Regions from separate parts of the Homo sapiens genome. Here region 1 is linked to region 2. Evidence: fine-mapped expression QTL. A gene starts in region 2. The other region holds a variant in brackets. All regions are shown on one strand. Distances are from middle to middle.

What was found. PIP is the estimated chance that this variant, and not a neighbour inherited with it, causes the effect.
Region 1: its variant is fine-mapped to the expression of SRP68 in whole blood (TOPMed, PIP above 0.99).

What each region holds. Positions count from the first base shown.
Region 1 is chr17:76,042,507-76,047,506 of GRCh38, forward strand. It overlaps SRP68 (signal recognition particle 68), which reads right to left. Exons shown (of 16, transcript NM_014230.4): 11 at 3,532-3,688; 12 at 2,786-2,880; 13 at 1,323-1,452. Among named protein-coding and RNA genes, the nearest start is that of EVPL, 18 kb to the left of the region's middle. The variant A/G (reference allele first, on the strand shown) is at 1,895.
Region 2 is chr17:76,069,563-76,075,067 of GRCh38, forward strand. SRP68 (signal recognition particle 68) reads right to left here and starts at 2,955. Exons shown (of 16, transcript NM_014230.4): 1 at 2,746-2,955; 2 at 816-882. The coding sequence starts at 2,929. GALR2 (galanin receptor 2) reads left to right here and starts at 5,219. Exons shown (of 2, transcript NM_003857.4): 1 at 5,219-5,505. The coding sequence starts at 5,322. RefSeq lists enhancers at 2,242-3,069, 3,068-3,117, 3,070-3,897, 5,284-5,505.

The sequences.
Region 1 (5,000 bases), 27 kb before region 2:
TCTAGCCTAGGAGACAGAGACTCCATCTTAAAAAAAAAAAAAAAAAAAAGTAAAGCAAAGAAAGCCTTCCATGGCTGCACTTTATTTATTTATTTTGAGATGGAGTCTTGCTCTGTCACTCAGGCTGGAGTGCAGTGGCTTGATCTTGGCTCACTGCAACCTCTGCCTCCCAGATTCAAGTGATTCTCCTGCCTCAGCTTCTCAAGTAGCTGGGATTACAGGTGTGCACCACCACACCTGGCTATTTTTTTCTATTTTTGTAGAGACAGAGTTTCGCCATGTTGCCCAGGCTGGTCTCGAACTCCTTACCTCAAGTGATCTGCCCACCTCAGCTTCCCAAACTGCTGGGATTACAGGCATGAGCCACTGCATCCAGCCCTGTGGCTGTACTTTAGATCAAGCATTTCCTTAGCTTTAACAGACCCCCAAATGGCCTGGGGATCTTGTTAAAATGCAGATATTGGCCAGCATGGTGGCTCATGCCTCCAATCTCAAGGTTTTGGGAGGCAGAGGCAGGAGGACTGCTTGAGGCCAGGAGTTCGAGGCCATGAGTTCAAGGCCAGCCTGGGCAACATAGTGAGACCCCCATCTCTACAAAAAAATAAAAATTGGCCTGGTATGGTGGCTCATGCCTGTAGTCCCAGCTACTCAGGAGGCTGAGGTGGGAGGGTCACTTGAGCCCAGGAGTTCGAGGCTGCAGTGAACTATGATGGTGCTACTTGCATTCCAGCCTGGGTGACAGAGCGAGACCCTGTCTCAAGAAAGACAGAAAGAAAGAAAACAAGCAGAAGGTTCCGGGTGGGAGCTGAGAGGCTGCATTCCTAGTGAGGCCCCGCCGCTGCTGCTGGTCTTGCGCATGCCCTGCAGGACAGCTTCACCAGTGCTTCTCACTTGGTTGCATGTCAGAATCACTAAGGGGCCTTTCTAAGTCCCAATGCCCACTTCAGATCCCTCACACTGATTAGAACCACAATCTCTGGGGGTGCGACCCAGACATCTACCTTGAAAAAAATCTTCCTAAGAGATTTCAACGTGCAGTCAAGTCTGAGAGCAGTACTTCAGGTTTTCCTGTGGTGGTTTTTGTTTCTTTTAAATCAGAAAAATGCCTTCCCTTCTTCATACCTAAATCCTCCTCAGGCCTGGAGCACAGCCATGAGTGACACAGCCTGCAGCTCCTGGGCAGTCAGGGCTACACCAGGTCCCACGGGCAGCCAGGGAGGACCAGCCTGAGGTGGCGCCCAGCTGTTGTACCCTCACAGCTCCTCCACAGCTGACTCCATAACCTGCCAGGGCTTGCAAACAAGGAGAGGCCAACCTCTCACCTTTAGGCTGTTCTTGAAGGCGCCAGCATCAGAATTTACTTCATTTGCATATTTCAGGACTCTGTCATACAGGACAAGGGCTTCGCTCCACTTCTTCACCAGCACATAGGACTGAGCAATGAAAAAACACCTGATGGGGAGGGAAAAGAGCCACAATATTCTAAAGCAGCAATTACCCAAGACCAAGGCTTTCCTTGCAGTTTAGGCGAAATTTCACATTTGGAAACAGGTTTCTTAACGTGGGATCACCGCATGGGAGCCCCCTTCATGGGAAGTGTTCAGATTTGTAGGCTACCCTGCAGAGATGCTTCCCAGCAATCAGAGATGCCCAGGTAGGCCCAACACTGAGCCACGGTTTTTTACTGACTGGCTGACTCTGCAGAGGAGGAACAGTTCCCAAAAGGAGCATGGTGAGGCTGGGGACAGGAAGGAAGGAAGAACGCTGCCCGGCTCAAATAGAAATCCCAAACCCATCCACACACCCAAGTCGCAATCATTCATCTCTGCTCATCGCTTTCCAAAAACAAAACTCACAGAAGGTTCTTCCTGAGTCAAATTCCTCTCCTGGGCTC[A/G]GCAGAGCCTGAGCGCTGCTGGTCCCTGACAGGACAGAAGGGGCCATGGAGTGAAGACGGGGCATGCTGGAGCACCAGAGCACACTGGCATGTGAGGGCCACAAGAGGAAGGGCAAGAATGCATGGGGCTCTGCCTTCCATCCTGGCTGGGCCCCATCGTGCTACCCAGCCCACTTCCAAGTTACAAATGACACAAGTCATTTAAGAAACTGAGTTTAGCTTTATCCCAAGTCAGTTCAAGTTCCTTGAACTGGCCACACTGGTTCTGCTAATTAACACCCTTTCAAGGCGTGCCCCTTTTCCCCTGGAAGGGAGGAGGAAAGTACAGGAAGACAAGTGTTTTTGTTTTTTTTGAGATGGAGTTTCGCTCTTGTCTCCCAGGCTGGAGTGCAATGGTGCGATCTTGGCTCACCGCCAAGTTGCGGTGAGCCTCCCGGGTTCAAGCGATTCTCCTGCCTCAGGCTCCCAAGGAGCTGGGTTTACAGGCATGCACCACCATGCCTGGCTAATTTTGTATTTTTAATAGAGACGGAGTTTCTCCATGTTGGTCAGGCTGGTCTCGAACTCCCGACCTCAGGTGATCCACCTGCCTCAGCCTCCCAAAGTTCTGGGATGACAAGTGTGAGCCACCGCGCCCAGCGAGGAAGCCAAGTTTAACGTGTGTGCTCCACTCCTCCGACCTGGCCAAAAGGCAGACATCATCACTGGCCACTACTGACCACAGCCTTTAGAAACTCCCCTTGAACATGCTGGGCTGACCTTCCTCTGATCACAGGCAAGGTAACCATACACTCAAGGCCAACGGTCCCATCTGCTGTGGGCTGGGTCATGCTCCCAATGCTTATAGAACCTGGGAGGCGGAGGAAAACTGCCCATCCCATGGGACGTTACCTGTAAGCTTTGAACACCAGAGTCTTGAGGCCTATCTCTTTCTGGAAGGCTTTGTCTTCCTCTAAACCAGGAAGCTGGAGCAATTCCACCAGATTCTGTACAACAGATGCAACAAGAAAATTCATGAAGAGTAGATCTTAGGTTGAATTTTTGACAGAAGACCTTGTAAGAACGGACAAGAGTGAGGAAAAAAAAAAGCCCGAGGTCAATACGATGGGGAAAAGCCTGTGAAGAGATTGGGCAGCAGCCACACCTGCTGTCACCTCCACTCCCCTCTGATCTTGGAAACATATTTGCCCTTTACAACTCAACTCAGCTCACCCACCTTCAGAGACTTCTTGGCCCATCTTAGCTGGAAGGGATCTGTTCCAGCGCTGAGCTTTTATTTTGCTTAGCATCTACTCAGATGCCTTGACTGTGTGTGTCTCACAGTCCTACTGACTGACAAACTCCCTGGGGGCCGAGATGGCATGGACTCAGGTCTCAGATGCTCTATGGCACCTGGGAGCGTCTTACACAGGTCAAGTGCTCAGTGATGATCTGGGGTCACTATTCTCTGCAGATCAGCATGTCTGAGAGGTAGGGGCTCACAGACTGCAGAACTGGTGTAAGATCTTTGTCTCTTCCCAGCTACTAATAGGTCCTGCTTGTCACAGCCCTTCCGTGATACAAAGTTAAGTCACTTTGTGTCCGACACAGGCAAAGGAAAACCACAGGCCCTTGCCTTCCCGGTCCTCAAGGGTCACCTGTAAGATGATGTCATAGAGTCGGATCAGGTCCTGGGGCCGGGGTGAGCGCTTGCTGTCATCCTCTGGCTGCTGCTGCAGCAGAGCCCTCTGCAGACCTTTGGCCATGTTCTCATTACGCTTGATTGCCGTTGATAGCTTGATGTAAGTCAGGTAGCTGGAATGCACCACAAGTCAGCTCAAGTTATACTCAGAGAAGCGGAGGAACTGGGAGGACTGGACTACAAGTTGGGGCTGACCCAGAGGAAGCAGGGGGCGGGTGGGGGCGTGGCCACAGCAGGGCCATTTGGCTTGGGCTTCAAGGGACCCTCCATTTGGCTACTATCCAGTGGCAAGTTTGCAGGGGACCCGCATGAGATCTTATCACAAAATTTGATTTTTAGCTTGATTTATACCTTCTGCATCCTTTTTCAAGAACCACACAGTGGAAAAAAAAAAAAAAAAAAACAAAAAACAGAGAGTGGGATCCCAGCAACTCACGAGGCAGGAGATCACCTGAGCCTGGGTATTCAAGGCAGCAGTGAGCTACGATCACACCACTGCACTCCAGCCCGAGTAATAGAGCAAAACCTTGACTCTAAAAATTGAAAACAACAACAACAACAAAACAAAAAAAACGGGGGGCCAGGGGCAGTGGCTCCCATCTGTAATCCCAGCACTGTAGGAGGCCGAGGCGGGCGGATCATGAGGTCAGGAGATTGAGACCATCCTGGCTAACACAGTGAAACCCCGTCTCTATTAAAAATACAAAAAATTAGCTGGGCATGGTGGTGGGCACCTGTAGTCCCAGCTACTTGGGAGGCTGAGGTAGGAAAATGGTGTGAACCTGGGAGGCGGAGCTTGCAGTGAGCCAAGATTGCGCCACTGCACTCCAGCCTGGGCGACAGAGCGAGACTCCATCTCTCTAAATAAATAAATAAACAGGCCAGGCATGGTGGCTCATGCCTCTGGTCCCAGCTACTCAGGAGGCTGAGGTGGGAGGATCACCTGAGCCCGGGAGGCAAAGGTTGCAGTTAGCTCTAGGAGTGGAAGGAAATGAGGCAAGGGCCGCAGGGAGCTTCAAACACTGGTTGTGTTCTCGTTTTTGTTTTGAGAATCTTGAGTCAGGGCTGTCTCAGGCTGGAATGCAGTGACATGACCATGATCATGGCTGACCGCAGCCTTGACCTCCCTGGGCTCAGGGGATCCTCCCACCTGAGCCTCTGGAGTATCTGAGACCACAGGTGTGCACCATCACACCCAGCTAATTCAAACTCTTGGGCTCAAGCAATCCATTTGCCTCAGCCTCCCAAAGTATTGGGATTACAGGCGTGAGCCACCATGCCTGGCTGTGTTCTAGTTAAGCTATATAAAAATCTTAAATTAGGCATATTAAAATAAAATGTAAATGTAGCATATATACTTATTTGATAAAATGGACATACATGCATTAGCATTTGTATGCATTAAGAAATTATAAATGTAAGCCA
Region 2 (5,505 bases):
CGGGCATGGTGGCATGTGCCTTCAGTCCCAGCCACTCAGGAGGCTGAGGCAGAAGAATCACTTGAACCCGGGAGGCGGAGGTTGCAGTGAGCCGAGATCGCGCCACTATACTCCAGCCTGGGCAACAGAGTGAGACTCCGTATCAAAAATAAATAAAATAAATACTACTTCAGCATCTCAATCAAAGCTACCAGGGTATAGATTATTTAAAAGAAAAAAAAAAAAAGAAATAGGCCAGACACGGTGGCTCACGCCTGTAATTCCAACACTTTGGGAAGCTGAGGTGGGTGGATCACCTGAGGTCAGGAGTTTGAGACCAGCCTGGCCAACATGGCGAAACCCCATCTCTACTAAAAATACAAAAATTAGCCAGGCATGGTGGCACATGCCTATAATCCCAGGTACTCTGGAGGCAGAAGCAGGAGAATCACCTGAACCCGGGAGGCATGGGCTGCAGTGAGCCAGGATTGCGCCACTACACTCCAGCCTGGGTGACAGAGTGAGACTCCATCTCAAAAAACAAACAAACAAACAAACAAAAAAAACAGCTACTCAGGAGGCTGAGGCAGGAGAATCGCTGGAACCCAGGAGGTGGAGGTTGCAGTGAGCCAACATTGCGCCACTGCACTCCAGCCTGGCGACAGAGCGAGACTCCATCTCAAAAAAAAAAAAAAAAACAAAGCAAACAAACAAACAAAAAAAACAATGCTCTAGACTTTCTAGCATATTTGCTGATATAGCAGAGTAAACAGGATATTAACAAAAGCAAAGCAAGTCCCACAATGATTTCCAAACATCTTGTATGTGATACTAACCTGTACCTCTGAAAATCTCCATGCCGTAAACCATGCTGCTGCTGGGATTCCTTAATAATCTGAAGAACTAGAGTCGAGATTAAGGAAAATCTTACCATAGCAAGAATCCAAACAAATCAAAACCTGTACCATCAGTCTATATCTGTGTCAAACCACAACACATTAAACATTTGTGAAATATAGCCAGGTACGGTGGCTCATGCCTGTAATCCCAGCACTGTGGGAGGCCGAGGCGGGTGTATCACCTGAGGTCAGGAGTTCAAGACCAGCCTGGCCAGCATGGTGAAACCCCGTCTCTACTAAAAACACAAAAAATTAGCCGGGCGCAATGGCTAGCACCTGTAATCCCAGCTACTCGGGAGGCTGAGGCAGGAGAATCGCTTGAACTTGGAAGGCAGAGGTTGCAATGAGCCAAGACAGCGCCACTGCACTCCAGCCTAGGTGAGAGTGAGATTCAGTCACACATGCACATGCACACACACACACACACACACACACACACAAATTTGTGAAATATTTAGTACACTGGTGAGATCTTTTGTAACCATTTTCAATATCTATCTTGTCACAGGACAGGGCTAACCTACAGGAAAACTGATTGCCTGAACTGTTACTACTTGCAAACTGAAAAAGGAGGGCACTACTGGCCACTGGAAACTGCCAAAACCCAGTTTAAATTAAGCTGATGGATTCTAAATGCTGACTATAATTGGGGTGCTTCACACCAATTAACACCTAGACCCCACATTTTATTCATTCAGATTCAGGTTATAAATGACATGTACTAAGCCTCCATTTGCATAATCTCCAACACCTGCCAAATCTAACTTTCCTTAACAGCTGTGATGCTTAGAGAGTCTATGATTAGCACATGTCAACCAAGCTAGGCTACAGTTTGCATAAAAGTATTAAGGTTTTTCTTTCAAAAGAAGAATGGCCAGATTCTCCTTTTAATAATCTTAAAATATTTAAGATTATGTACTAATCTTTAGAAAGTCCAATGACCTTCATCTATATAGGTATAGTTTTAATGTTTCCTCAACACTTCTCTAGAGACATATTTTAAAATAGTGAACGCTAAAAGGACTCTTTAAATTACTAAAACGGGACAAAGAGATATAAAGGTCTCAGTAAAATCAGGGCTCGCTAGCGTCTACTTGGAACTATTACCAGTAATTCAAAATATTTAACTCCAAGCGCCTGAGAACTTTAAGCACATTAAGATGTCAAGTTGAATGTGTTATTTCAGAAACTCGCCTACGTTTTCTCCATTTGTTATTCATTTCAAAAGGTCACAAACTAGTACCACAAGCACTTGGTTGAGATACACACTGATGGAAACTAGAAACCGATTCCTCCAGCTTATATGAATGACTGTCAGCAAGATAAAATGCCTACAGACCGATCAGAAAAAAATGACACAATCGATATTAACTACGGTAACTTACAATCAAAATGGGCAACAAGCTTTTCCTGAGTCAATCTTTACCTCCACTTTCAAAGTATCGAGCTGTAGGTTTTACTACTCAGTCTATGACGACTGTCAGACAAGAGTATTAAGCCAAATGTCAAGACTGCAGTTTCCTCTCCCCAGTTCAGTGGCTCAAGGTGCCAAAGCAAGGTGCTCAAGGTGTCACTTGGTCACAAGCCCTCCAACTGGACAACTGCGGGGCACCAGGGGAAACCTGCCTGATATCCCAGTGCCACTGGAAGAAACGGACCTAGCCAGGACGGCGAGGGGGACACGAGGAAAGACTAGTCGAGAGACAGACCCCCCCCGGAATTCTGAGCACCAAAAGGTAAGGGCGAGAGAAACTGCAACCCTCGGCCTCTCCTGCCAGGACTTGTCGGGACCCGCCGCCTCTCCCGCCCCCAGCCCTCCAGTTCGACACGTAATCATTGCGAGTTAGGCCCGATTACTCTAGGATACTCTCCAAACTCAGGCTATCCCCAAATTCTTTGTTTGCCTTCGATCCGGCCGAAGGGCGTTCGTTTTCTTTATTTTCTTCCCCTCCGGCACCACGTCCACCGCCGCTACCGCCGCCGCCACTGCCACCGCCGCCGCCACTGCCGCCGCCGCCGCCGCCGCCTGGGACCTGCTTCTCAGCAGCCATCTTGCCCCTGCGCCGCAGAGCAAGACGGGATAGGGGAGGCGGGACGACCTGGGCGGGTGAGAGCTGGACCTGCCTGGCCGGGCTGATGGGATAGCGGCGGACTCCGCCGCCGTCGGCCCTTGCTGCAGCAGGGCGCCATGTGCTGGAGCGCGCCTGCGCGAGGGATCCTGTCATCCCGGGTCCGGAATTGTGGCTGGCTAGGTGGGGACTTGAGGCCGCAGTGAGACCGTGGCTGCTGAGATCTCAGGGGGCAGTCCCACCTCCCACCCACTAAGGGCGGAGAACCGGAGGTGGACCCCAGGTCCTGCATCCTGGACTGGGGATCTGGTTCACGTCCTGCCCAGCAGAAAGCAGGAGACCAAAGATACTGGATTTCGGGGTGTCTGCATCCCCAGGGACTCAAGAGATGGGGTCCTCCCTACCGGAACGGGACACCCCGTCCGTAAGGGACCCGCCTCTGCCTGCCCTTTCCTCTGAGGCTGGCCGTAAGAACGCCAAGCCGGAGGAAGCGCTGCGCAGTCAGCAGACGGTGTCCTAACGGGGTGACTTTCTCAGACCGCTTGGGGCCGTGGACCACTGCACTTTGGGGCCGTCAGTCCAAAGAGGGAGAAGTGTTGAGACATGGGAAAATATGAATTTTTGCTTTGCACCTTCTAGAGTCTGAGACCTGGGATTCCAATCCCCGCTCCGTCATTAGCGGCAGGGACATGTTGGGCACGTAACTTAATCTCCCTGTAAATCTGTTCCTTCATCTATGAAATGGGGATAACCAATTTAAGTGGTTGTTAGGAAGATTAAATGACGGATTTTTTTTTTTTTTTTAGATAGAGTTTCGCTCTTGTTGCCCAGGCTGGAGTGCAATGGTGTGATCTCGGCTCACTGCAACCTCTGCCTCCTGGGTTCAAGCCATTCTCCTGCCTCAGCCTCCCGAGTAGCTGGGATTACAGGCGCCTGCCACCACGTCCCGCTAATTTTTGTATTTTTAGTGGAGACGGGGTTTCACCATGTTGGTCAGGATGGTCTCGATCTCCTGACCTCGTGATCCGCCCGCCTCGGCCTCCCAAAGTGCTGGGATTACAGGCGTGAACCACCGCGCCCGGCCCTGAACTCTATTTTGAATTTCCTCAAGGTATACGGAATAAGGTCAGGAGAAAAAGAATAAGGATCTGATGCATTCAGATTTAACTAACTCTCCCATACATCTCATTCCTTTCTCAGCAGATCCCTCTTAGAAGGAAGTGTTACCATTTCCTTGTTACAGCTGAGGAAACTGAGGCATGGAGCCAAAGACAGAGCCTGACACAATAGATGCTCAGTATATTGGATTGAATTGGAGGGAAAACGTTCAATGGGTAAGAGAAGGGAAAAAGGTGGCCGGGCTCGGTGGCTTACGCCTGTAATCCCAGCACTTTGGGAGGCCGAGGTGGGCGGATCACTTGAGGTCAGGAGTTTGAGACCAGCTTGGCCAACATGGTGAAACCCCATTTCTACTAAAAATACGAAAATAAGCCAGGCGTGGTGGCAGGCGCCCGTCATCCCAGCTACTCGGGAGGCTGAGGCAGGAGGATCGCTTGAACCCGGGAGGCGGAGGTTGCAGTGAGCCGATATCATGCCACTACACTCCAGCCTGGGCGACAGAGTGAGACTCTGTCTCAACAAATACAAATACAAAAAACTAGCCAGACGTTGTGGCGGACGCCTGTAGTCCCAGCCCCTCAGAAGGCCGAGGCAGGAGAACCGTTTGAACCCGGGAGACGGAGGTTGCAGTGAGCCGAGATCGCGCCACTGCACTCTAGCCTGGGCGAAAGAGCCAGACTCCGGGGCCCCTCATCCGCCTCCGCCCCGCGTTTCCTCCCCCCGATCTCCCAGGGGTCCTCTTTTGAGGGCACCCCAGCCCCTCGACGGTCCCGGGATATCCTGCACCCCTGCCAGGCTGCAGGGAAGCGCCGAGGCGCGCGGAGTGCGAGGTCCGTGCTCCCTGCGGCGCGGCGCACACGCAGGGTCCGGGGTCGACCCCTCCACCGCTCCGGCGTCTGCCGGGGAAGTCAGTCCGCCTGGTCAGCCCAGAACCCCCGACTGCGGGGGCTGGAGCTCGGAAGCAGGTACAAGCGCCACTCTCCGCCTGCGCCGTGGAATGCGCGCCGGGACCACTCCGCAGCCCTTCCCCCAGCGCCGCCGGCCGCTGCTGGGGACAACCTCGCCCTCCTGTCTCTTGCTCCTCCTCCTGACCCCAGCGCACCCCCATCCCCGCCCCAGATGAGGCAAGGCTCCCTCCGCCTTCAGCCCGGCAGAGTCGCACTAGGAGTTGCAGCGGCCGCAGCCCCGGGAGCTTCCCGCTCGCGGAGACCCAGACGGCTGCAGGAGCCCGGGCAGCCTCGGGGTCAGCGGCACCATGAACGTCTCGGGCTGCCCAGGGGCCGGGAACGCGAGCCAGGCGGGCGGCGGGGGAGGCTGGCACCCCGAGGCGGTCATCGTGCCCCTGCTCTTCGCGCTCATCTTCCTCGTGGGCACCGTGGGCAACACGCTGGTGCTGGCGGTGCTGCTGCGCGGCGGCCAGGCGGTCAGCACTACCAACC